7 linked regions of the Homo sapiens genome follow. The protein of the gene in region 7 interacts with the protein of the main gene of each other region in a pairwise test. Each region holds a gene or a part of one and is shown on either strand. Other genes may lie near its edges.

Region 1 (3,500 bases), on a different chromosome or scaffold from region 7:
TGGTCCACTTCCCTCCTTTTTTTTTTTTTTTTTAAACAGGAATCTCTATCTTAGACCATTTTGATTTCTAAAATAGCAATATTTCTTATGTGACTATTTCATTATTGTGCTGCTGCCACCTGGTGGCCACAGTAGTGATGTCATACTTCAGTTTAATTTCTTTTTTTATTGCAAAGACACTATTAAGCCAAAAGATAGGCTGATATATTTTAAGATATAGAATACTGTAAAATATATAAAGGTTGCACATCGATTGTGACTCAATTGATTGCCACAATGTCTAGGTTGAATCCAGGACTATAATTTTTAGTTTATCATAGTCAAGTTATTTAACTCTCTAAGCCTGTTTTCTCAAAGTAATAGTATCTGTCTTTTATGAGTATAGTGAAGATTGATTTAGACAATGTGTACAAGGCAGCTGTTGAACATTCAGTAACTTAACTTCTAAGTATATTATTAAATAGTCATAGAAAATATATTAATGTATATTACTAAATATATTAATGTTTAAGAATAACATGACCTAAATAAGTATAATTTTACTAATGATAATTTTGAATAACTGTGATAGCACTGTCAATAAGAATAGCACTTTCCTACATGTTAGTTAAGTATCCGTGTATGGTTGTCAGGAGCATGCTACTTACAGTGGACATTTAATTGGCTGTTAGAACCCATGAAAAAGCTGGAAGAAACCTTAGAGAATATTGTTCATGCCCCTCATTTTGCAGATGTTAAAACAAGTCCGAGAATATAAAGCTAGTTAGTTGCAGAGTAGGACTGTATCCTGGGTCTCCATCTAGTGTGGTGTGGACCGTGTACTGCCTCCCAGTTCTCCTAGAGTGGACCAAAACATGGAATCTTGGTTGCATTGTAGTTGGACTGTATTGTGATTTGAAAGTGGAGTAAAACATGGGAACCTTTTTCTTTAGGTTTTTATTTTTGCAATTTTGGTGTAATATGTAGGATAAACCAACTAGAAAAAAAATCCTCCCTGTCACGTTTGTGCACAAATAATTTAATACTCAGTTTGTTAGTATCTTTAAAAATAGATGCAAATAAGGTGCAGTGGTTCTATTTTCCAGTCTTCTCATTCTCCTCTGTGTCTCTGGAACACCCTGGGCATGTCTCTCACTATATTTATCACACTGGGAAAGCCTTTTTGGCTCATTTTTTTCTGTCCCATACTAGACTATTAATACCTTGAAAGGGGCCATATCTTTCATCACTATATATCTAGTTGTTAGTACAACATTGAATTACGTGTTGAGTAAAATAATCTACTTCTTACAGCAGTATAATTTTTAGATGAGGATTAGCCCAGGGGCAGAACCTCTACACCACAGTCTGGTTATTGTCTTAAGGGTTTAAGGAAAAAGCATTTTGGAATGAAAAGTGGTTTGACATTGAACATTTTGAAGATTTATTATAAAAGGCGAGAAGCATACACATATTAATCAACACTACTGAGTTTAAGGGTCCTCTTTCCTTTCTCACTGTCACCTTTCTTCATGGTGTATCTTACCCTTTATTTTATATTTATTTATTTATTTATTTATTTATTTATTTATTTATTTGAGATGGAATCTCTGTCTGCCACCCAGGCTGTAGTGCAATGGTGTGATCTCGGATCACTGCAACCTCCGCCTCCCGACTTCAAGCGATTTTCCTACCTCAGCCTCCCCATGGCTGGAACTACAGGTGCATGCCACCATGCCCAGCTAATTTTTTTTTTTTTTGGTAGAGGCGGAGTTTTACCATGTTGGCCAGGCTGGTCTCAAACTCCTGACCTCAGGTGATCCGCCTCCCTCGGCCTCCCAAGTTCTAGGATTACAGGCGTGAGCCACCGCACCCAACTGTATCTTGCTGTTTATATGGCAGTCTTCTATCTCCCGTTCCCTCTTTCTCTGCTAGACCCTTCATGTAGTTCCCCAGCTGTGACCAGTTTGCATGGGGGAGAGGGTAGGTAAAAGAGGGAGGGGAGTTAAGTTCAGCCAAAATAATCTGCCACGTGCCATGTTGAAATGCTGCGTTGAGCTCTGCAGCTGCAGAGATGAATAAAATTGGGTTTCTGCCCTGGAGGGATGAATAGTCTAGTAAGGAAAAATAGTATGTAAAAAACTCACTTCCAGTGTGGTGCAACTCCTATGAAAGAACGTATTAAGCACTGGGAGCAAATGAAGTGCAGAGGTGGGAGGGCCCTGTGGCTGCCTTTCGGTGGAGAGAGGATGTTGCATGCAGGAAGCTCTATGAGCCTGTCTTCAGGAGTGAGTAGGCTTTCCCATGATAGACCAAAGAGTTTAATCTCAGTACACTTCGCATTTTTTATACTATCTCTTTAATTTTTAAAAAGCTATACTTTCCCTCTGACATGTGTGAACCCATTTCTTTCTCATTTTGTTAAGGGAGTTTGTGTATCCGTCTGCTAGAGAGATCCCACCTCCACCCCTGCTCACCCGACATTAGGAATTAGGCAAAGAACAATGAGATATTTGATATTTACACGGAGAGAGTGTCAACCGCAATTCAGATATTTTTAAGTTATTCTGTTTTAGTCCGAAATAGTTTGTTCCTAGTATTCCTGAAGTGATGTTCTTTGACTGCTTCTACAGTCATCTTAAGAAGTGCTGCATTTTTTCATTATTATGTATGCTTTCATTCACATTCTTAAGTTGTAAGTTAGAATGTTAGAACTGAAGAAATGAATTGTCTCATGACTGATATTTTTTTCTTTGTCAGTTGCCAAAACAAAGGGGATTTGGTGATGGAGGCTTTGTTAGAAGGAATACAAAATCGAGGGCATGGTGGGTAAGTTTGCTTTTTTTAAAATTAATTTTTTTGGTTAATACATGATTACATATTTATAGGGTTCACATGATACTTTGATACATACATATAATGTGTAATGATCAAATAAGGGTATTTAGTATACCTATCAGCTCAAGCATTTATCATTTTTTGTGTTGGGAACATTTCAATTCTTCTAGCTACTTTGAAATATATAGTAAATTTTTAAAGTTTAAGGAACCTTACTGTGCTAGTCACCCGACTGTGCTAATTACTTAACTAGTTACATACTAGTTACTTAGTAGTCACCTTACTGTGCTATTTAACACTAGAGCTTACTCTTCTACCTAACTGTATGGTTTGTACCCATTAACCAAACATTCTTCACCCCCAACCCCTTCCCAGCCTCTGGTAACCATCGTTCTACTCTCTACCTCCATGAGGTGAACTTTTTTAGACCCCACATATGAATGAGAACATGAGATATTTGTCTTTCTGTGCCTATTATTTCACTTAACGACCACCAGTTTTATCCATGTTGCTGCAAATAACAGGGCTTCATTCTTTTTTATGGCTGAATAGTATTCCATGATGGATATATTTCTGACATTTTCTTTATCCATTAATCTGCTGTTGGACACTCAAGTCAATTCCATATCTTGGTTATTGTGAATAATGCTGCAATAAACATGGGGGTACAAGTATCCCTTTCA
Region 2 (3,208 bases), on a different chromosome or scaffold from region 7:
TCTCTGTTAAAATATCCTTTTATTTCTCTTTTGCAGATAGTTCATCCTCATTGTGTGTGCTAGTAAGCACTGTTGGAAAACTCTGTAGGCTGATTAATGAAGATGTGAATGAGCAGGTTATGCAGGTATTAGGACCTGAAGACCTCCAGAGGTATTTGTTTTAAAAGTTTACAAAGTATCATCCAGAATGGCTGGGTGTGGTGGCACACGCCTGTAGTCCCAGCTACTTGGGAGGCTGATGTGGGAGGATCACTTGAACCCAGGAGTTTAAGTCCAGTCTGAGCAAGGCAGTGAGACCCTGTCTCTAAACAATAAAAATTAAAATAAGTATTATCGAGAGTTCCTGGAGGGGTGAAATTAAAGACTTTCAAAACTTATTTACCTTCCCTGTTTGGAATAGCATCTTTTGTGTGTGTGTGTGACTGTAAGCACACGCCACCACGCCCAGCTAATTTGTGTGTGTGTGTGTGTGTGTGTAGAGAGAGAGATAGAGACAAGGTTGCACCATGTTGCCCAGACCAGTCTCAAATTCCTGGGCTCAAGTGATCCGCCTGCCTTGGCCTCCCAAAGTGCTGGGATTACAGGTGTGAGCTACCATGCCCAGCCTTGGAATAGCATCTTTTAAGTAACTTGACAATCTAAGATAATCTCAAACCCTTAGGGATGGAGGAAATGCCAAATATTTTCAAGATAAAAATAGATTGTAAGGCCTATAAAGAAGGTCAGGTACTCTTCAGCATAAGCCTGTTTTCAGGAAATATTATATATGGAGAAATTCAAACCTTGTTAGCAACATCATGTAAGTTCTGATTATATCAATAAGTTCTATTTTTAGGACACTACCATAGACCACTGAATAATCATTAATAGTATATTTATTTGATTAGAAGATAAATGTTGAGGAGTTTTTAAAAGACTAGGCATCTATAACATAAAAGCTGGTATTTTTAGAAAATATCAAGACATTGTAGCTATAGTTAAAGCAACTTTCCCCACACCTGACCCCCAATTTTATATTACAGCATATGTGAAGGGAAACACACAATATATACCACATAAACCATATGTTTTGCAAGTTTTCCTAGAAGAACCCTTACATAATCTGACACTTGGTGCTTTTAAAAGGAACATATATCTTGCTATTGGCCTATTTCTTCCTTCCCACAGTTTTACTGACTACTGATTTTTTTTCTTTTTTTCTTTTCTTTTTTTTTTGAGACAGAGTCTCACTCTGTTGCCCAGGCTGGAGTGCAGTGGCTCAGTCTCAGCTCACTGCAACCTCCGCCTCCCAGGTTCAAGCAATTCTCATGCCTCAGCCTCCTGAGTGGCTGGGGTTACAGGCATGCGCTACCACACCCAGCTAATTTTTGTACTTTAGTAGACGTGGGGTTTCACCATGTTGGCCAGGCTAGTCTCGAACTCCTGACCTCAAGTGATCCTCCTGCCTTGGCCTCCAAAGTGCTGGGATTACAGGCATGAGCCACTGTGCCCAGCCTGATATTTTTTCTTAATGTTTAATAGGATACTGGGTGTAAAAGCCAATTATTTTTAGAAAATGCTGTAAAAGCATGATCTAAGAAGCCTTGAGCTTAATGGGAAATTTGCCATGTTAAGAATGTTGTATATTGGCTGGGCGTGGTAGCTCACGCCTGTAATCCCAGCACTTTGGGAGGCCGAGGTGGGCGGATCACGAGGTCAGGAGATTGAGACCATCCTGGCTAACACGGTGAAACCCCGTCTCTACTAAAAATACAAAAAATTAGTCGGGCGTAGTGGCAGGCACTACAGGAGGCTACTCGAGAGGCTGAGGCAGGAGAATGGCGTGAACCCGGGAGGCGGAGCTTGCAGTGAGCCGAGACAGCGCCACTGCACTCCAGTCTGGGTGACAGAGCAAGACTCTGTCTCAAAAAAAAAAAAAAAAAGAATGTTATATATGAATTTAACAAATTTTACATTGATATTGAAATGCTTTTTTAAGAAAAGTGATATTGGATTAACAAAAAGCTCAGAAAGAAAAGACTGTAGTAAATGATCATTAAGTTTATATTTAAATTAGCAATATAGTTTCTATTTTGAAAATGTTCTGTTTGCAATCAGATGCAAGAACCCAAAGTTAGAAATCAGGTTTAAATTGTGCATTTTTTAAACAGCATTATCTACAAATTGGAAGAACACGAGGAATTTTTCCCAGCATTTCAGGCATTTACTAATGATCTACTTGAAATCTTAGGTAAGATCTCTGGTGGTGATGGTGAAATTTTGAGTCTTAAAATGTCAGTGCATTTAAGAAAAGGGTGTTCCTTGGTCACTGGATTAGTATTTTTACCTAGTGGTTGGAAACCACTAACAGTTCTGGAAACACATTCCTTACAAGCAGTTAGAGTTTGTTTGGATTAGTCCATAGAACAGAAACACAGACCCTTAACAGCAATAGGAACTACCTTTGTTGGAGGACCTTATCATGAGAGATGGCATCATTCTGTCCATGCCTAGTTTAACCCTGGCTCTGTCATTGTCTAATGAGAAATATTCTTAGGATTTATGATCTTAGAAGGTCCTTCCTCCCTCCTTTTTTTTTCTTAAGATACCACCTATCTACAAAATTTTTTAAATATACAAATAATATTTCCTCTCTGGTTATATGAAGTAACATAAAGTCATAAATATCTGTGGAAAGGAAAAGATGAAATATTACACTTATACTGAGGGTCAGATTGAGGGCTTCATTAGTAGTAGTGTCTCCTAAAAGGAAAAAATTTGCTTAGGACTCATAAGGCAAAATAGAGACCTTATCTAGTTTAAATATAATTACATATGGCTATAAAATTATTTATCTTACTATTAAGAATGATTTTTAAAGTTTTAAAGTGATGTATTCACCAGTGAATTTTTTCTGTATAGCTCATTTGAAAGATTTTTTTTTTTTTTTAAAGAATGGCTCTTTGCTTTTAGAAGAGGAGATGAAGCTTGGTATGAAAATAAGGGAATGAGTCAATGAAAACTTGATAAGAAGAATAAGTGAAAGAAGTATCTAATTAGAATATATAGCCTACTGAACATAAAGGAAGTTTTGTGACCAGTCTTATGTGCAGTGGGGAAGCAAGGGAGACAATGAGTGAGCTTGCTTTAGGCTTGTCCTCATGTTTAAAAAGATCACAGCAAGTGAAAATGTAATTTGAAAGTTAAACTTGAGATGAGGTATGAAACT
Region 3 (3,500 bases), on a different chromosome or scaffold from region 7:
AGGAGTTTCAGACCAGCCTGGGTAACACGTCAAGGCCTCATCTCTACAAAAAATACAAAAAATTAGCTTGGTGAGGTAGTATGCACCTATAGTCCCAGCTAGTTGGGGGACTGAGGCGGAAGGATCACCTGAGCCCAGGAGGTTGGGGCTGCAGTGAGCTATGATGGAGGCACTGCACTCCAGCCTGGGTAACAGTGTGACCCTGTCTCAAAAAAACAAAACAAAACAAAAAGAAAGGCAAGGATTTGTCTGCTTTGTTTAATGTTGTGTCCCCAGTGTCTAGAAAAGTACCTGGCTAATGGCAGATGTTCAAGGAATATTTACTGAATGAATGAATGAATGTACAGAAAAAAAAAATTCCACCTTGGGAAGAGGGCAGTTACTCCCTCCCAAAAGAATGAACCATGCAAAGAAATGCTGGCTGCTCTAAAGAGCTATATTCCACCAAGTATTAAGAAAAAGGCCTATGTTCCAAAAACTATAATTAAAACAGGGAGGGTATTTCAAAGAACTGTTTTTAAGCAAAAGAATCTATGCGCTCTCATTCATTCTTTTAGAATATCTCTTAAAAATCATGTCTTATAGCAGTCATTTACACAAGAAGGATCAAATTTATTTGGACCTGGAAGAACCGTTTGAAAACCATATAGAAGAATGAGTAGCTTCTGAAAGATGCGGCAGGTCTGATAAATTATACTTATGTACTGATTTTGCACTGGATCCATTCTGTTTTCAGCTTAATACTGTTAACGCTAGCTGAAACTTTTCAGATAAACTGATCTCACAGTGTTTAACCTAAAACAGATGAATGGCTAGTAAATGACCTCCAATTCTAATTTAATCTTTAATTGTCTCCACTGAGAAAATATTTAGTATACAAAATAACCTAGGCCATAGACATTATTTTTCCAAGAGCCTAAAATAGCATCCTCTCCCTTTAATCGGCTTTTTGTGGAATGTTGTAAATGCAGCCACCAGATTAGAGGATAATCTTCCCTAGATTGGCTTGACCCATTTAGATAATGAATCCTTCCAGTACCTGTTGCTTTATTAGTAATCAGCACCTATGAAGAATTATTTGTGCTGCAGCCTATATAGTTTCATCTGCAACCTGTAATTTTTGAAAAAATTTTTTTCGCTGAATTTGTAAAGAATGAGAGAGATCTACATGTACTAACATGGGTAAACTCCCAATAAATAAGAAAAAAAAGCAAGTTGCAGAACTATCTCCCTCTCTCTGTCTATATATATATTTATATATATATATCTATATATATTTATATATATATTTATATATATATTTATATATATATTTATATATATATTTATATATATTTATATATATATTTATATATTTATATATATTTATATATATATATTTATATATATTTATATATATATTTATATATATATATATTTATATATTTATATATATTTATATATATATTTATATATTTATATATATTTATATATATATTTATATATTTATATATATTTATATATATATAAATATATATATTTATATATATATTTAAATATATATATTTATATATATATTTAAATATTTATATACTTATATATATTTATATATTTATTTATATATTTATATAGTATGTACTGTATATTAAAATATATGGAGGAGATAGAAAAACGGCCAGAGAATAGAATACATATCAATTTTGAAACAGTGGCTACCATTAGGGAGGGAGTAGGTATTCATATTTTCTCTTCTGGGGGAGAGTTGTTAAAAGGGCCTAAGCGTCATATGTAACATTTGATATTTTAAGAGAAGAATGTCACCTGGTATGGTGGCATATACTTCTAACCCGAGCACTATGGGAGGCCGAGGAGGGCGAATTGCTTGAGCCCAGGAGTTTGAGACCACCCTGGGCAACATAGTGAGACCTTTATTTTACAAAATAAAAATAAAAATAAAAAAATTAGGCCAGGATGGTGGCTCAGGCCTGTAATCACAGCACTTTGGGAGGTCAAGGCTGGCGAATCACTTGAGGTCAGGAGTTCAAGATCATCCTGGCCAACATGGTAAAACCCCGTCTCTACTAAAAATACAAAAATTAGCTAGGTGTGGTGGTGTGCACCTGTAGTCCTAGCTACTCAGGAGGCTGAGGCAGGAGAATCACTTGAACCCAGGAGGCACAGGTCTCATTGAGCCGAGATTGTGCCACTGTACTCTAGCCTGGTGACAGAGCGAGACTCCATCACAAAAAAAAAAAAAAAAAGAGAATGAAATCATGTCCTTCACAGCCACGTGGATGGAGCTGTAGGACATAATCTTAAACAAATTAACAGAAAACCAAATATCACATGTTCTCATAAGTGGCAGGTAAAATAATGAGTACACACGAACATAAACATGGAAACCACAGACACTGCGGGCTACCACCAGGTGGGGAGGGAGGGAGGGAGGGAGGGCGGCGTAGGTTGAAAAACTATCTATTGGGTACCATGCTCACTACCTGGATGCAATATACCCATGTAACAAACCTGCACATGCACCTCTGTATCTAAAATAACAGGTGAATTTAAAAATATAGGCCAGGCATGGTAGCTCATGCCTGTAATCCCAGTACTTTGGGAGGCTGAGGCGGGCGGATCACCTGAGGTCAGGAGTTGGAGACCAGCCTGACCAACATGGAGAAACCCCGTCTCTACTAAAAATACAAAATTAGCCGGGCGTGGTGGCACACGCCTGTAATCCCAGCTACTTGGGAGGCTGAGGCAGGAGAATCGCTTGAACCTGGGAGGTGGAGGTTGTGGTGAGCCAAGATCACGCCACTGCACTCCAGCCTGGGCAACAAGAGTAAAACTCCATCTCAAAAAAATATATGTGTGTGTGCGTTCGTGTGTATGTGTGTATATGTGTATGTATGTATGTATATCGACAGTGGAGCCAGGCACAGTGGCTCACGCCTATAATCCCAGCACTTTTGGGAGGCCAAGGCAGGTGGATCACTTGAGCCCAGGAGTTCGAGACCAGCCTGGGGAACATGGTGAAACTCTGTCTCTACAAAAAATATAAAAATTAGCTGGGCGTGGTGGCATGCACCTTTAGTTCCAGCTACTTGGGAGGCTGAGGTGAGGAGATTGATTGATCCTGGGAGGTTGAGACTGCAGTGACCTGTGACTGCACCAGTGCATTCCAGCCTGGACAAGAGAGTGAAACTCTGTCTCAAAAAATAATAAATAAAAAGTGGAGTCAGAAGAAAAACAATAGGTTCTCTCCTATTTATTTTTAATCATTATAGGCTGTTCATTTCTTTCCCAACATTTCCCATCTTATAGTTATGTGTCTGTTCATTTTTTGTTTTTTGAGATGGAGTTTCGCTCTTGTTGTCCAGGCTGGAATACAATGGCGTGATCTCGGCTCACTGCAACCTCCACCTCTCGGGTTCAAGCGATCCTCCTGCCTCAGCCTCCTGAGTAGCTGAGATTACAGGCATGTGCCACCACGCCCGGCTAATTTTGTATTTTTAGTAGAG
Region 4 (3,305 bases), on a different chromosome or scaffold from region 7:
TTATGAATATTGCCCTCAGATTTATTTTCACTCCGCTCCTTCCATTCATATTCCCAGAGACAACCAAGAGCCGACTGTAGAAAAAGACTTCCAGACACCTAGAATATATATCAATAGACACTGTTTAAAAGGGGTACAATCTTATCGAAAACTATGTAATAAACAGAATTGGATGCAGAACTCAGACATAAGAAAGCAAAAAAAAAGAGAGATGAGGCTATTTCTGAATTTAGTCATGACATCTCCATGGATGCAGGATGTTCATACAGATTTATGCCTTTTCCAAATTTGACTTGTTTGATATTGGAAATGCAATTTTACTGTTTTGAAGCCAAAGATGCTGAAATCAGCTTATATGTATAGATATTTAAAGCTTGGGTATCTTATATGTGGACTTACATTGCTAAACATTGTTAAAATAACTTAAAATGAATCAAAAACGTGTTTTTTTAAAAGAATCCCTGAGATACATACAAGTTTGAAAATTATTGAGAAAATAATTGCCTCTGCCAAAACCAAATGGTATGAAAAGGTAGTCTGAATCATTCAGCATATCTAAACATAATCTTGTTCTTCTCAAATATGCTTGGAATACATATTTGACAGGTTTGTTTCTGAGAAAATTTAGTGGAAATATTGTAGTCCAAATTTCCTATAGATTCCCCTACAGCCTTCATCATAATCATTTCTTTAGAGAGAAGTAAACAAGAGGACATTTGTGGCACTTTCTTCATTGTCCTTTATAGCATTTATTACTGAATAAATCACTATCCTCTGAGGAGGAAAGGAAAGTAAGCAGCAGAGGCCTATGAGTTGTCAGTCAGGACTGGGGAAAATCACAAACAGGAAGATAAAAAATGAACATATTTTATTAAATTCTCATAGGGTTACAGATTTTTTTCACACCACATTTGGAGACGTTTTTGGGGGAAAATATACCTTTAAAATTTTATCTGTAGTTAATTTGGATCTTCTTGGTCTACCCCACCCACAAAGGGTCAAATAAGAAAATAAATAAATTCAATCCAATCCTGAAATTTTAGTCTGATGCAGTAACTGAAACAGCCTAAAGGTAAATTTCCCAGTATCTCAGGTTTTTCCTCACCACGCTCTCTTCTCCAAGATGGCAGTTGAATGTAGGCAGAAAGAGCTGACTCTAGGACCACAGAGCAGTCAAGTGAAGGGTTTCTCACATCCCTTAGTCTTCCCTGGCATCTCTGGTCTCCATGGTAATGCCTGTCTGTCTGGTCGCTAGCTGCTTGCAGCTTAAGTTTTTGGTCTCGTCTCTCCCGGACTGGTGAAAGGCTGATGATGCCTCCCCAACTGGCTCATTTCAGTTCTCAATGGTGTCGAGGGCCTCCTTGATTCTCTGCCAGGCTGTCCTATCTGCTCCCTGGCTCTGGTGGTCTACTTCACAGACCCTCACCAGTGTGTGGTGTGTCTGAGTTCTTCCCTTATCCCCATACCTCACAGTAACAAAGAGTGACTTTGGAAAGTCAGATTCCAACCCTCCCTCTGCTTAGCCCACGGTGTAGATGCTAGGTTTCCTCTGATGTACCTGCCTCCCAAACTGGAGAGGGGAAACCATGAGGTGAATTGAATCTTTCTACTTCCCTTCTAAAATAAGGAGGTGGGATTCAATATTCCATGAGGTTCATCTACCTCTGACATCCTGTGATTCTATCCCCACTTCTCTGCTTCCTCTGAGACACCCTCAGGCCCACCTCTGAATAACAGTGAGCTCCTCCAATTCTAAGAGGCCTTGACATATCTGACTTTGCTCCTCATCATCCCCATGTCAAAGAACCCCTAGAGATAAAGTCAGCCTGGAGGTTAAATCTGCAAATAAAGGGTGTCCTATGAAACCAGTAATCAATACCCTTATATTCATTTCTATCATGCTGGAGCTGGACTGTTTCTGGGATCTTAAATGTGGGGTTGGCCAGTGGTACGGTGTGAATGTTTGTGTTCTCCCAAAATTCATATATTGAAATCTCAACTTCCAAGGTGATGGCCTTAAAAGTAGGGCCTCTGGGAGTTGATTGGGTCATGAGGGTGGAGCCCTCATGAATGGGATTAGTGCCCTTATAAAAGTTGCCCCTCCACCAAGTGAGGACACATAGAAGGCATCATTCATGAGGAACAGGCCCTCACCAGAGAGCAAATCTGCTGGCCTCTTGGTCTTGGACTTCCCAGACTCCAAAACTGTGAGCAATACATTTCTGTTGTTTATAAATTACCCAGTCTAAGGTATTTTATTATAGCTGAGACTAAGTCAGGGGTCACCATCTGGTGGAGACCTTGCATCCTAGTTAATTCATATATCCTTAGAGGCAAGCCCAGAATTTCTCTTTCCTTTGCCAATTCAATAGCAAGACAAGATCTCTATGCCATTCAGAAAAGCCAGTTTGTTCCTTGTAGAAGATCTAGTAACAGGAATTTTTACTCTGGTAGGTAATAGGTACATTTACTCCATCTTGAGCTCTCTGCGTCTAATACACATTATTCAGAATGCGATGGCATGCAGACCTGTATTCCTCCTCCCTTCAGCACTCCTTCCTCTGGACTGGCCTATGCCACCTCCTGTTCCACTGAACTGATTATTAAAAAAGGAAGAGATCACGTATGTAGAAAATAATCATGTTCACTGGAAGGAATGACATATTTGTTAGCAAACGATTTACATTTCAAGGCTTTCACCTCTAACTTTGAAAATGAAGCTCGCAAGATGCTTAAAGATTATGTCTGTGAAGCGGATCCCAAAAAAATATTGTGCAAGAGAATGAAGATCTGTTTACTTTAGGTTTATGTCAGTTTACCAAATAGCTCCAGTCCAAAGAGTTATTTATACACTCATCCATTTATTAAATCTTTAAAAATACTTAAAAATCTTATGAGGCAGTAGAATTTGAAGGTTTGTAGTTTGAATAATCAATAAAAGATGATGTTTAGGGTTGAAAGCCGCTATGTTAGTTTGTTGCCATGACTTGGTGGCTTGAACAACAGAAATTTGTTGTCTCTCAGTTCTGGAGGACAGTTCTGGGAACAAGCTGTCAGCAGGATTGCTTTCTTCTGAGGCATTTCTCCTTGGCTTAAAAATGGCCAGCTTCTCAAACTGTGTTCCTCTGTGCCTACATGTCTGGTGGCTCTCTCTTTATATCCTAACTCCTCTTCTTATAAAGACACCCTACTAACTTCATTTTAACTTATCTTTTTAACGGTCGTATGTTCAAATACAATCACATTCTCCAGTTCTGGGGTTAAGGCTTTGGCATGAACTTTAGGGGGAACAATTCAGCCCATAC
Region 5 (3,500 bases), about 22 Mb from region 7:
ATTCTTAGTAGAGACGGGATTTCACCATGTTGCCCAGGCTGGTGTCGAAATCCAGGCCTCAAGCGATCTGTCTACGCCTTAGACTCCCAAAGTGCTGGGATTATCAGTGTGAGCCACCATGCCTGGCTCATTATGTAAATAATTTAATGCATACATCAAAGACAAGTTGGAAACAAAAGAAAAAGGAAAATGTAATTCTCTATGGACTGCCTCTGCACCTGCTATATAAAACAAGTCTATTTCTCTATGGACTACCTCTACCTCTACTGTATAGTACAATCATTATTAACAATTTGGTGATGTTTCTCTTTGTTAGTTTCAGTTATGCTACCTATGTAAAAGTATATATCTTGCGTTTTTGCTTAATAGTGAAATTTTAAAGCAAGAAATAGTCATATAATTGATAAAATTTAACCTATAGATTTTTAAATTTGTTATTTAAACATATTTTTAATTTGCAAAAAGTTCTCAGTTGGTTTTGTGGCAAGGGTATAGGTATAAACTGTGCGTGGTGGATATGTTAATTATTGACCTTGTAATAGTAATATGGGTTGTCTTATAGAGTCATTGCAGAATTGTACTTGCAACAACTCAGGGAACATAGTGTCCTGCCAAAGTGAAGCCTGTCCCTCAGCATATCACAGGAGGAATGAGGAGGGATACAGTTCTCGATGCAACATCGTATTATCAATAATGCTTTTCAGAGGAAATTTATCTAGAACTGAAATAAAAATACACGTAACCGAAAGGAACATATATACTACATATATATTTCTGCTACTATATATGCTTATGTATAGTATACTACATGTGCTTACATATAGCATAAATATATAATATGTATATATTTATTTTTTCATATAGTATTAAAATTAAAATATATAATATATATTTTGTAGAAATGGTCTTCTTTATTTTCTGCTTAATTGGGAGGTTTTAGCCTTTTCTGATATCTCCTGTTTAGTTTGGCTGTTTAAAGTCTTAGGTGTTTTGACAAAGTATTCCATTTAAGTCACTGTAATAAATCTTCCCTCCTGGATTTTTGTCTTGAGGCTACATGCTGGCCACTGTTTTTTATTTCATTATTACAGCTTAAGAAATTACTTGTTTTCCTGAAGTAGAATTGCCATATCCAATCCAGTTTTTCTCTAGTTCTTACGTAAGAAGAATTCTAAAAATTAAATATATAGAACATTGTTATTTGGCAATTTTAGTGGAATTTCTCGAAGAACATCACCGGGTCCTAGAGTCTAGATTAGGCTCTGTTACCCGAGAAATTACAGATAACAGAGCATGTGCTAAAGAAGAATTGGAAAGCCTCTACCGGAAGATTATCAGCTATGTGTTACTCCGCTCTGGCCTTGGATCCCCTACAGACATCAAGACTGTCAGAGAGGTAACAGGTAAAAAGTATAACCAATTTCCATTTCATAAGTGAAAATATATGGTCATTGTATTTTATAAAACATGTTAAATTAGAAGTGTTAAAGATTGAAGTTCCCTTTTTATCTGAAAAAAAAAAAAAAATCAGCACAAATGAGTTAAAATGTACCCAGTCTCCTTTTACACTGTGTATCCATTCTAAAACTCAAGTAGCACCTCTAGAAAGTGAAATATTGCTAATTTTCCTAGAGCTGTACATATCTAGGCACCTATTACACCCCATTAGAGAAACATTGATAGTAGGATTGAGGGTACCAGGCTGATTGAGTAAATGGAAAAGCTGAAAACGGATATTTCATATTGATGAAAGAAATTGAGTCTGTCATTTAAAATGGGTGATGGAATGGGGCACCATTTTATCCTTAGGAAGTCTTTGCCCTCTTTCATCCTTTAAAATGAGGAATAGGAAAAATGTCTAGCTCTCCTATGGCTTTCTTCCATAATTATTTTAAAGCATCCATTTTTTGGCTCAGATCCCTAATTAGAAAGCTTGTTTTCATGCCCATTGCCAAAAAGTTACTGCTGGATGCTTAATTATTAAAAATGGACATGAGGCAATGGCATAACTCTCAGTAATCCAGCTTTGATGCGTGATAAGTTTTATTATGTATCCTATAATCAGGTATCAGTAATTTAAAGAATCATATAAGTAACTCAGACCCTTAACTTGCTGCTAAAGAAAAACGTTATTTAACGTCTGATATCTTTATTCTATCATTTTGTTTTCCTTTTTTTTTTTTCTGGTTTATTTTAGCTGCTCTACAGAGTGTTTTTCCTCAGGCAGAGCTTGGGACATTTCTAACTCTTTCTAAGAAGGACAAAGAACGCCAGCTGAAAGAACTCACCATGATTGTTACTGGAATTCGTTTATTTAACAGAGACTGTGGAAAAGGAGGAGAAGGCATTGATGATTGTAGGTATATCATTAGATTAATTCTAAAGGTTATGTATGTTTAAAATTTAACTTGCACAGTGAGGAAAATAATAAACAACACACCACTGGCATTCTTAAATTTAAGATTTGCATTTTTTACTGTTTCCTTAAGAATAACTACTGTTTATAATGTGTAGTGATTTTTACTTTTGCTGGGGCAAGACTTTACATTTTATGTACCATGAAGCTAGTAGGAGAAAGTGAATCAGTGAAAGCAATGAAGGGTCCTGCTCAAAGCTAACCTCCCAGTTCAGCAGGGCTTTGTGTTCATTACTGCAAGTCCGTAACCAAAAGGGAGTACAATTTAGTTATTTAAAAAATAAAAATCTTCCTGAAAACAGTTCCTGGTGCAGTTAATGGAATGAAAAGATCCACGAGGAGATATTTCAAATCTCTAAATTCGGGGGCATTTACTTTGTGGTTATATACTTAATGCATTCTTTATAAGTTTGAAAGTACTTATGAAATATTTAATGAAGTACCTACCAGTAGAAGTAACTTCCTTATGAAATTTGGTACTCCTGTAGGCCCACTGATAAGGTGTTAGTGTCTTTCACCAAATCACTAATCTAGTATAAAAGGGTAATTTTTTCTATTTTAAAAACTGTTCTAAAAAGTCAAATTTCCATTTTCATAAATGACCCTCCCTTGCTAGACTATTCTGTCATTTTTCACCATCCAGATGAGTTTCTTAACAAACGTTCCTTTTTTTTTTTTTTTTAATAACTAGAAAAGAAGATATACAAAAGGAAGGGTCAGTGGCTTTTCTGGAAGCACATGGTTAACAACACATAATACCAAACTCTGCCTATTCTCTGAACTCTTCTATATTTAGTGGCAAAAGCTGACCTACTGTAACTGGGTTATCATTCTGTTAATATCTTTTGTTTGAACTTGTTTTAGATTCTTTTTTTTTTTTTTTTTGAGATGGAGTTTCGTTCTTGTCGCCCAGATTGGAGTGCAGTGGCGCGATCTCGGCTTACTGCAACCTCCGCCTCCCGGGTTCAAGTGATTCTCCTGTGCTGGGATTACAGGCATGCGCCACCACGCTCAGCTAATTTTTGTGTTTTTAGTAGAGACGGGGTTTCACCATGTTGGCCAGGATGGTCTCAATCTCTTGACC
Region 6 (3,500 bases), on a different chromosome or scaffold from region 7:
GTATGTAAAAAATATTTGCATTGTGGTACAAATCTTTTATGATTGCTGAAAATTATTCTTAGCAATTGATGGTAGAGCTCTGATGTGAAATCATGTTTAGGAAAGCATTCCTTGCAGTATTACAGTTTTCTGAAACACAGCACTATGGGTACAAATGTCATAAAAAGCTCCAAGAAAACATTTCAAAAGTGTTTTTGAATGTATTTCTTTACCTAAACCTAAATTTTTATACTCATGGCCATTGCTTCTTTTATTAAAATACAGTTAATAGCATCAATCACTAGATTGCTTAAAAATGCTTTTCTTATTGTGCATTAAGTTATTTCTACCCTTTTGAGGGTTCTATTATATAAGATACTTTTTTGTGTGCTTTACGTAATGAATTGTGCAGTATTTCATGGAAGCATCTCCTTTGAATTGTAGGACATTTTATAAATGTAGAAATTAAAGTCTGTGCTTATAACTCTTTCTGCACATTTAAAAAATAGAGACTTTTAATTATTTGCTTTTTTTCATCATCTGTCAATTAAGTGATTTTCAGTTATACCAACTGGAATTGAAATGCGAATGTTAATACCTGAAAGGTTTTACAGAAAATAAGTGAGTAAATCTTGCTTTTTGAAATGATCTTTGCATTTTATATTTTAAATATCCTTCTGAAATTGCTGAACCATAAAGTCCCATATTGATGTCAGTATATGCAAAGAAACTACTTTTCAACATTAACTTTTAATCCATTTTCATTTACTATCTAACTGACATTAAAGAGGATCTTACTGCAAAAAGAAAAAGGATGAAAATGGATAAAACTTGCAGCAAAACAAAGAACAAAAGTAAACATGCTTTGAGAAAAAAGCAACTTAAAAGGTATGACTGTTGGCTTTTTTGCATAATGATATTTATATCATTTCTTTGTATTAGTTGGTGCAAATAATTTCAAAAACTATCCTGTACATATTGGCGTCTCTAGTGAACAACATATTTTACTTGATTGTTCTCTAAGTAGGTAAGTTTCTTTAGTTTTATAACCTCAGTTTAACAGAATTAAGAGATATTACCTAGAAGCCAATGAAGATGACCTCTTTTTGCCTTCCAGATAAAAATAGCCTTCTTGTAAAATTAATGTTTATCCATTTCTAGAAATATGGTAGCTGCATATAAGATAAATGTTCTCAATGTTTAGTCTGTAGATCCTTAACGATACTCAATTATGTAGAAAGGGATAACCTTATGTTGTAAATAAGTTATCTATTTTAGTTAAATTGTTTTCACTATTTCTTTTACAAAATCATTGGTGTGCCAAAGTGGAGAAATAGTTAAGTGAAGTTTTTCTTTTGGGAAATCTTATGGGATGAATGGCTATGATATTCTTGAACCTACTTATGAGAACCCATATGTTATTCAGTAAGAGGAAATGGAAAGTAAACTGCTCTTAGAGAAAATGTTTCTGGGAAAGTTATAGTGCAGTAAACCCTCCTTTGTCTTCAGCAGGTAAAGAATGTAAGATAGCTGCTCTAGTAGTCAGGAAGAAAAGAATCCTTTCAAAATGAGAGTAACTCATTTCACTTTTTTCCAAAAAGAAGATTTCAGCTGCTATTACTCCCTTGCTACTTTATAGTATAAATTATGTCAAGTCAGTTTGGGTTTGAATAGGATTAATTTTTCATCTCTCTATGACGTATGACCGTGTTACTTATTATGTGTTACAGGCAGAAACGTGATTATATACATTCTCTGAAGTTGCTAAATGTCCTTGAAGAATACATCACAGACGAGCAGAAAGAGGAAGAAGAAGAAGAGGGAGAAGAGGAAGAACTAATTGTTGGTATCATGCTTAGCTTTATGTATAACCTGTTATGTCAGTGTCTCAGGTAGTAATAGTTCATGCAGAAATCCAGCAAAGAAGGAAGAGCGCATGAGCCCAGAGAGGGGGGCCCGTTAGTGGACTAATGGACTAGGGGAATATAATTGCCACGCAGCATTAGGGGTCCAACTGAAGTCAGCATCATAACGATGAAGAAGTTAAAGTAAGCCCAGTTGGCATATTTGTGCAAGCACAGCTGTAGGGTTGGAATTTCCTGGGTCGGGGTGTAGCCGAGCAGATTGATAGAGGGAGAGTTGGGCAGGGAATAGATGCAGAGATGGGGATATGATGACTGGCTGTGGAATTTCAGCTGGGACTGAGTTATCTGAGCACACGGGAGTGGGCAATGGGCAGTAAAAAGTGCTCCATTCAGTGGGTGTCAGGTCCCAACAGACTCCTGAGCTGTAGTACTGAAGTGAGTGACCTACGATGGCAGGGAGGTAGTGGCTGTATGTTGGGAAGTTGGAGAAACAGCTGAGTGCAGTGGTCAAGGGCTGGGACTATGCATCCACACTGCTTGGGATTCTAGCTTGACCATTGCTAGCTCGGAAACCATGGAAAAATTATTTATCTCAGCTTGACCATTGCTAGCTCGGAAACCATGGGCAAATTATCTTATCTACGAAAGGAGACATGGTAAGAGTACCTACGTCAGAGTTGTTTGGAGGATCAAAGGGTTTCTGTGTAACAGGTTTATTTAAGTTTTTCAGGATGTGATCTGACCCATGGTTGCTCTTTATCATTGCTATTATTAATATTACGTAGGTGTTGAAGTCATTGGGAATGACAAAATCTAGGGGATGACTGTGTGAGTGAGTGCCACGTAGAGGAGAGGAGAACACTGTTGTTGGAGATTAGGTCAGGGTGCAGAAAGGCAATCATTATTGGGTGGTTCATCTATGTGCATATTGAAATGACCGAGATTTAATACATGCTTAAAATCTTAGAAAGAATTTTTCTTAGTTAATTTCTGTATAGATCTTACCTATCTGTGGTCAACAAATTATAGGAAGGTTCATCAAATACTCTTCATTGGAAATCAAGAATTAGGACATATGTGTTGAATGTGTAAAAGTAAGAAAATTCTTTACTTAATGACTGATAAAAAAGGTTAATACATCATTTTAGCATGTTATTGGTGAACACAATTGTTTAAAATTGGTCCTAAATGTTGTCTAAAAGAAAGTGTTCAGAGGTATTGATTTAAACAGTATTCCTTTAAAGCTAATGCAGAATTATGTTTTGTAAGTATTAAAATTTACCCAATTTTTATCACTATTTTGTTTTGGGATTCTAGAGAATATTTCAAGAACAACAGAAGAAGTGGCAACAATATAGAAGTGTTAGGAGAGAGAGGCTGAAAGAGATGAAGCTGCTACGTGACCAATTCGTAAAGGTCTGTTCTATTTGGTAACATAATACATTATAAAATACAACACGTGCATAATAGAAGACAGTCTGCTTGTTTCTGAATGTATGGAAAGACATTTGATTATACATTTCAAATTACTTAGCATTTTCACTTTGAATGTATTGTTCCAGATATAATATAATTGGTAAATGTATTTTTAGGATTCATGAATAGTTTGTGGGAGTTATTTAGAACAGGAAAAGGTAAATTGGAAATTTTACCTAG
Region 7 (3,500 bases):
TCACCATCTGTGTATTTTATTATTTCAAGAATGTTATATAAATGGAATTATGCAGTATGTAACTTTTTGTGGTTGGCTTTTTTCCCTTGAGGTCCGTCCAAGTTGTCGTATGTATCAGTACATCCTTTTTATTTCTGTGTGGTATTCCGCATTATGGATGTACCACAATTTAACCATTCATCTGTTAAAGGATATCTGGAGCCGGGCGCGGTGGCTCACACCTGTAATCCCAACAGTTTGGGAGGCCAAGGCGAGTGGATCATTTGAGGTCAGGAGTTCAAGACCAGCCTGGCCAATATGGTGAAACCCCATCTGTACTAAAAATACAAAAATTAGCCAGGCAGTAGTGGCACACACCTGTAATCCCAGCTACTCGGGAGACAAAAGCAGGAGAATCGCTTGAGCCTGGGAGACGGAGGTTGCGGTGAGCCAAGATCATACCACTGCACCCCAGTCTGGGTGACAGAATGAGACCCTATCTCAAAAAAAAAAGGATATTTCGATTGTTTCCAGGTTTTTAGCTATTACAAATAAAGCTGCTATGAACATTTGTGTACAGGTTTTTATGTGAACATAAGTTTTCATTTTTCTAGGATAAATGCGTAAGAGAACAATTGTTGGGTCATGTGATAAGTACATTTTTAGTTTTATAAGAAACTGCCAAACTGTCTTCCAAAATGGCTGTACCATTTTGTATTCCCACCAACAATATGTGAGTGATTTTATTTTCTCTGTGTGCTTGCCAACATTTGTTATTGTCACTGTTTTTTATTTTGGCCATTCTGATAGATGTGCAGTGATATTTCACTGTAATTTTAACTCGCATTTCCATAATTAATGATGTTGAATATCTTTTCGTATGTTTGTCATACGTATGTCTATGTCAGTGAAATTTCTGTCCATGTCTTTTGCCCATTTTCCAGTTGCATTGTTTTCTGTTGAGTTTTGAGAGTTCTTCATATCGTAAATAACTTTTAAAATAATTTCTTGTTTACGTTTTTTTCTTGCCAATCTCTAGAAAACTAAATGTATAAAGAGACGACCACCTTGGCAAATTTGTTCAAAGTTTGGAGCACTGCCTTTTGTGGCTGAAAAGGTGAGAGGGGATAAAATGAAGATAGTCGTTCAAAAAAACTCCTGTTTTGTTGTAAGTGCTATTTAAATATCTTCAGTCATTTAAAATTATTCTCAGTTGTTTCTTTTCCCATAAGTCTACCAGTGCAAGCTGTTCTGTGAATGCAAGTATGCAAAACTTTTTGCAGATGAGGCAACATCGTGACCCACATATCCTTCAGAAACCTTTTAACGTGACTGAGACTAGATGTCTCCCCAAGCCTTCTAGAACAACTTCCTGGTGTAAAGCTATTCCTCCTGACTCAGAAAAGTCCATTTCCATTTGTGACAATTTATCTGAACTTTTGATGGCAATGCAAGATGAGCTGGACCAAATGAGCATGTAAGTATTTATATTCTTTTTTTTTTTCAAGAGACAGTGTCTCGCTATGTTGCCCAGGCTAGTCTTGAACTCCTGGTTTCAGGCAATCCTCCTGCCTCGGCCTCCCAAAGTGCTAGGATTACAAGCATGAGCCACCGTGCCTGGCCAGTATTTTTATTCTTTATCAGGAGAAGTACCATATCACTTTTTCTTCTTAGTCTTAAGAACAATACCACTTATAAATTCTTAAAGGCGTTACTTAGCCATTTGGACAGTTTGTTGTCCCTATTTTTCATTGTATTTATTACTATTTAAAATTTCAATTCTTTATAGCTACTACTTTTTCATTCTTAGGTATTTCTGTATTCCCAAAATCTGGACTGATAGATATTATTATCATTCTAACATACAGGATCTGATGACCTTAGATTAAAACTCACAAAAGCTTTTATAAGACAGGCTCTCCTTTTGTGTTTTAGAATCTTTTAGCTGAATGAATTATTTCATTAGACAAGTAGGAATGTAATTCCTTGTTTTAGACTCTGGCTGGTCTGCATTACAAATTTTGAAGCATCTATAGTAAAGAAGATTTCCATATGGGATACATTATATTGTGCCCACCTGCTTAAATATATATTCAACAGAAATTCCAGAACTATGTGATTTGGCTGACCAGCTAGTTGATCTAAGACTTCTGTAGAAGATATAACTCTTTCTATTAACAGTATTTCAGTAGGCTAACTCCAAATCCAGAAATTTTTCAGGCAGATACTTCTACAACTGGAATTCTTCCAAAGATCCTATATCAATAACGAGGAAGAAAGCCCTTTAATACCTCTGTTAAAGACATCATACATTTTACTACATTCAGCTATGAGCATCAGGAATTCAGATGTTTTTAAAAGTTGCTTAGCCGTCTTAAGATATTTCTAAAGGTATTTAATTTCAAATCACAGGAGCCTGGTTATATTTACCATAGACTTAATTAACCCTAAAGAAAGAGGCTGTTTTTAAAGGTTAATATTTAACTCTGACTAAAATTTATGATTGAACAGAAAATTGCTTAATTATGGCAAAGAAATATATGCAATAAACTATAATACTGCTTAATATTTGCTATTCTTTCATAGGGAGCACCAAGAACTACTGAAACAAATGAAGGAAACTGAAAGTCATTCAGTCTGTGACGACATAGAATGTGAACTAGAGTGTTTACTCAAGAAAATGGAAATTAAAGGAGAACAAATCTCCAAACTGAAGAAGCATCAAGACAGTGTAAGAAGGCTTTAGTAAGAGATTTTAATAAAAACACAAAATATCTGGATTCAGTGTTGTATCTCTGTATGACTTTCCAAATTTGAGGTCTGTATATGGGATTTAGTGAAAAGATGGATGGTAATCCCTTAGGCCTATGACAGAATAGAGCCATCTGTCCCATTGGAATAACATGGACCTCCTACATAACTCTCCAAGTTAAAATTTTTTAAGTGAGCAAATAAGTTCAGTTATGTATTCAGAAATTGCTTTGGGGAAATTGTGAGGCAGACTAAACTTGCCTTAGCAGCCCTCCAGTTACCCTTTTAGCATTCTTTTTCGTTTTCCTTCTCTCCTCTAATGCCTTAATGATACCCCTTATGTCAGCAGGTCTCTCATTCACTGCCAGACATAAACCTGGCTCCCAAGCAGTGCCCCAATCCTTAAAGCATGATTTCCCCTTTCCCAAAACAAGCTGTTTTATGTTCCATTCCCTGGGGTCCTATACTCAGCTAGCTATAGTGAGTAGAACAGGGATGGTGAAGAAAACTCTGCACTTGTATGTTAAGATGTAATAACTAAGAATAGCTAACAGTTTTCTTATTTTAACAGAAAAATCATGGAATGTAATATTTAATTCCAAGACAATGACTCCGTAGGTTGAACTTGCAGCACTATTACACTGCTGGAGCAGAAAGCAGAGGGAGCCTTTCCCAGGAACCCTCAAGTCACATCATGTAGCCATCTGGCTATGGACAAAATCATCATTCATATAAGTTAGTGATATATGAATGTCACAAATAAGCCTCCC

What was found.
Region 1: the proteins of CEP57L1 (region 7) and CEP63 interact in binary tests that used the Homo sapiens proteins (3 or more experiments, as listed by UniProt).
Region 2: the proteins of CEP57L1 (region 7) and CEP70 interact in binary tests that used the Homo sapiens proteins (3 or more experiments, as listed by UniProt).
Region 3: the proteins of CEP57L1 (region 7) and FAM161A interact in binary tests that used the Homo sapiens proteins (3 or more experiments, as listed by UniProt).
Region 4: the proteins of CEP57L1 (region 7) and ROPN1 interact in binary tests that used the Homo sapiens proteins (3 or more experiments, as listed by UniProt).
Region 5: the proteins of CEP57L1 (region 7) and CFAP206 interact in binary tests that used the Homo sapiens proteins (3 or more experiments, as listed by UniProt).
Region 6: the proteins of CEP57L1 (region 7) and FAM9B interact in binary tests that used the Homo sapiens proteins (3 or more experiments, as listed by UniProt).

Annotation. Positions count from the first base shown.
Region 1 is NC_000003.12:134,492,557-134,496,056, forward strand, and holds part of CEP63 (centrosomal protein of 63 kDa), read left to right. Parts: intron 1-2,739; coding exon of another isoform or gene 2,740-2,764; coding exon 2,765-2,808; intron 2,809-3,500. UniProt on the Homo sapiens protein: Required for normal spindle assembly.
Region 2 is NC_000003.12:138,497,053-138,500,260, reverse strand, and holds part of CEP70 (centrosomal protein of 70 kDa), read left to right. Parts: intron 1-36; coding exon 37-151; coding exon of another isoform or gene 152-164; exon of another isoform or gene 165-377; intron 378-2,150; coding exon 2,151-2,230; coding exon of another isoform or gene 2,231-2,397; exon of another isoform or gene 2,398-2,925; intron 2,926-2,933; coding exon of another isoform or gene 2,934-2,998; exon of another isoform or gene 2,999-3,208.
Region 3 is NC_000002.12:61,847,561-61,851,060, forward strand, and holds part of FAM161A (protein FAM161A), read right to left. Parts: intron 1-3,500. UniProt on the Homo sapiens protein: Involved in ciliogenesis.
Region 4 is NC_000003.12:123,971,820-123,975,124, reverse strand, and holds part of ROPN1 (ropporin-1A), read left to right. Parts: intron 1-3,305. UniProt on the Homo sapiens protein: Important for male fertility. With ROPN1L, involved in fibrous sheath integrity and sperm motility, plays a role in PKA-dependent signaling processes required for spermatozoa capacitation.
Region 5 is NC_000006.12:87,414,472-87,417,971, forward strand, and holds part of CFAP206 (cilia- and flagella-associated protein 206), read left to right. Parts: intron 1-1,214; coding exon 1,215-1,403; intron 1,404-2,197; coding exon 2,198-2,356; intron 2,357-3,500. UniProt on the Homo sapiens protein: Essential for sperm motility and is involved in the regulation of the beating frequency of motile cilia on the epithelial cells of the respiratory tract. Required for the establishment of radial spokes in sperm flagella.
Region 6 is NC_000023.11:9,027,628-9,031,127, reverse strand, and holds part of FAM9B (protein FAM9B), read left to right. Parts: intron 1-531; coding exon of another isoform or gene 532-560; exon of another isoform or gene 561-767; coding exon 768-867; intron 868-1,709; coding exon 1,710-1,821; intron 1,822-3,161; coding exon 3,162-3,260; intron 3,261-3,500. UniProt on the Homo sapiens protein: May play a role in meiosis.
Region 7 is NC_000006.12:109,158,007-109,161,506, forward strand, and holds part of CEP57L1 (centrosomal protein CEP57L1), read left to right. Parts: intron 1-1,018; coding exon 1,019-1,096; coding exon of another isoform or gene 1,097-1,147; intron 1,148-1,211; coding exon of another isoform or gene 1,212-1,262; coding exon 1,263-1,456; intron 1,457-2,565; coding exon 2,566-2,710; coding exon of another isoform or gene 2,711-2,724; intron 2,725-3,500. UniProt on the Homo sapiens protein: Centrosomal protein which may be required for microtubule attachment to centrosomes.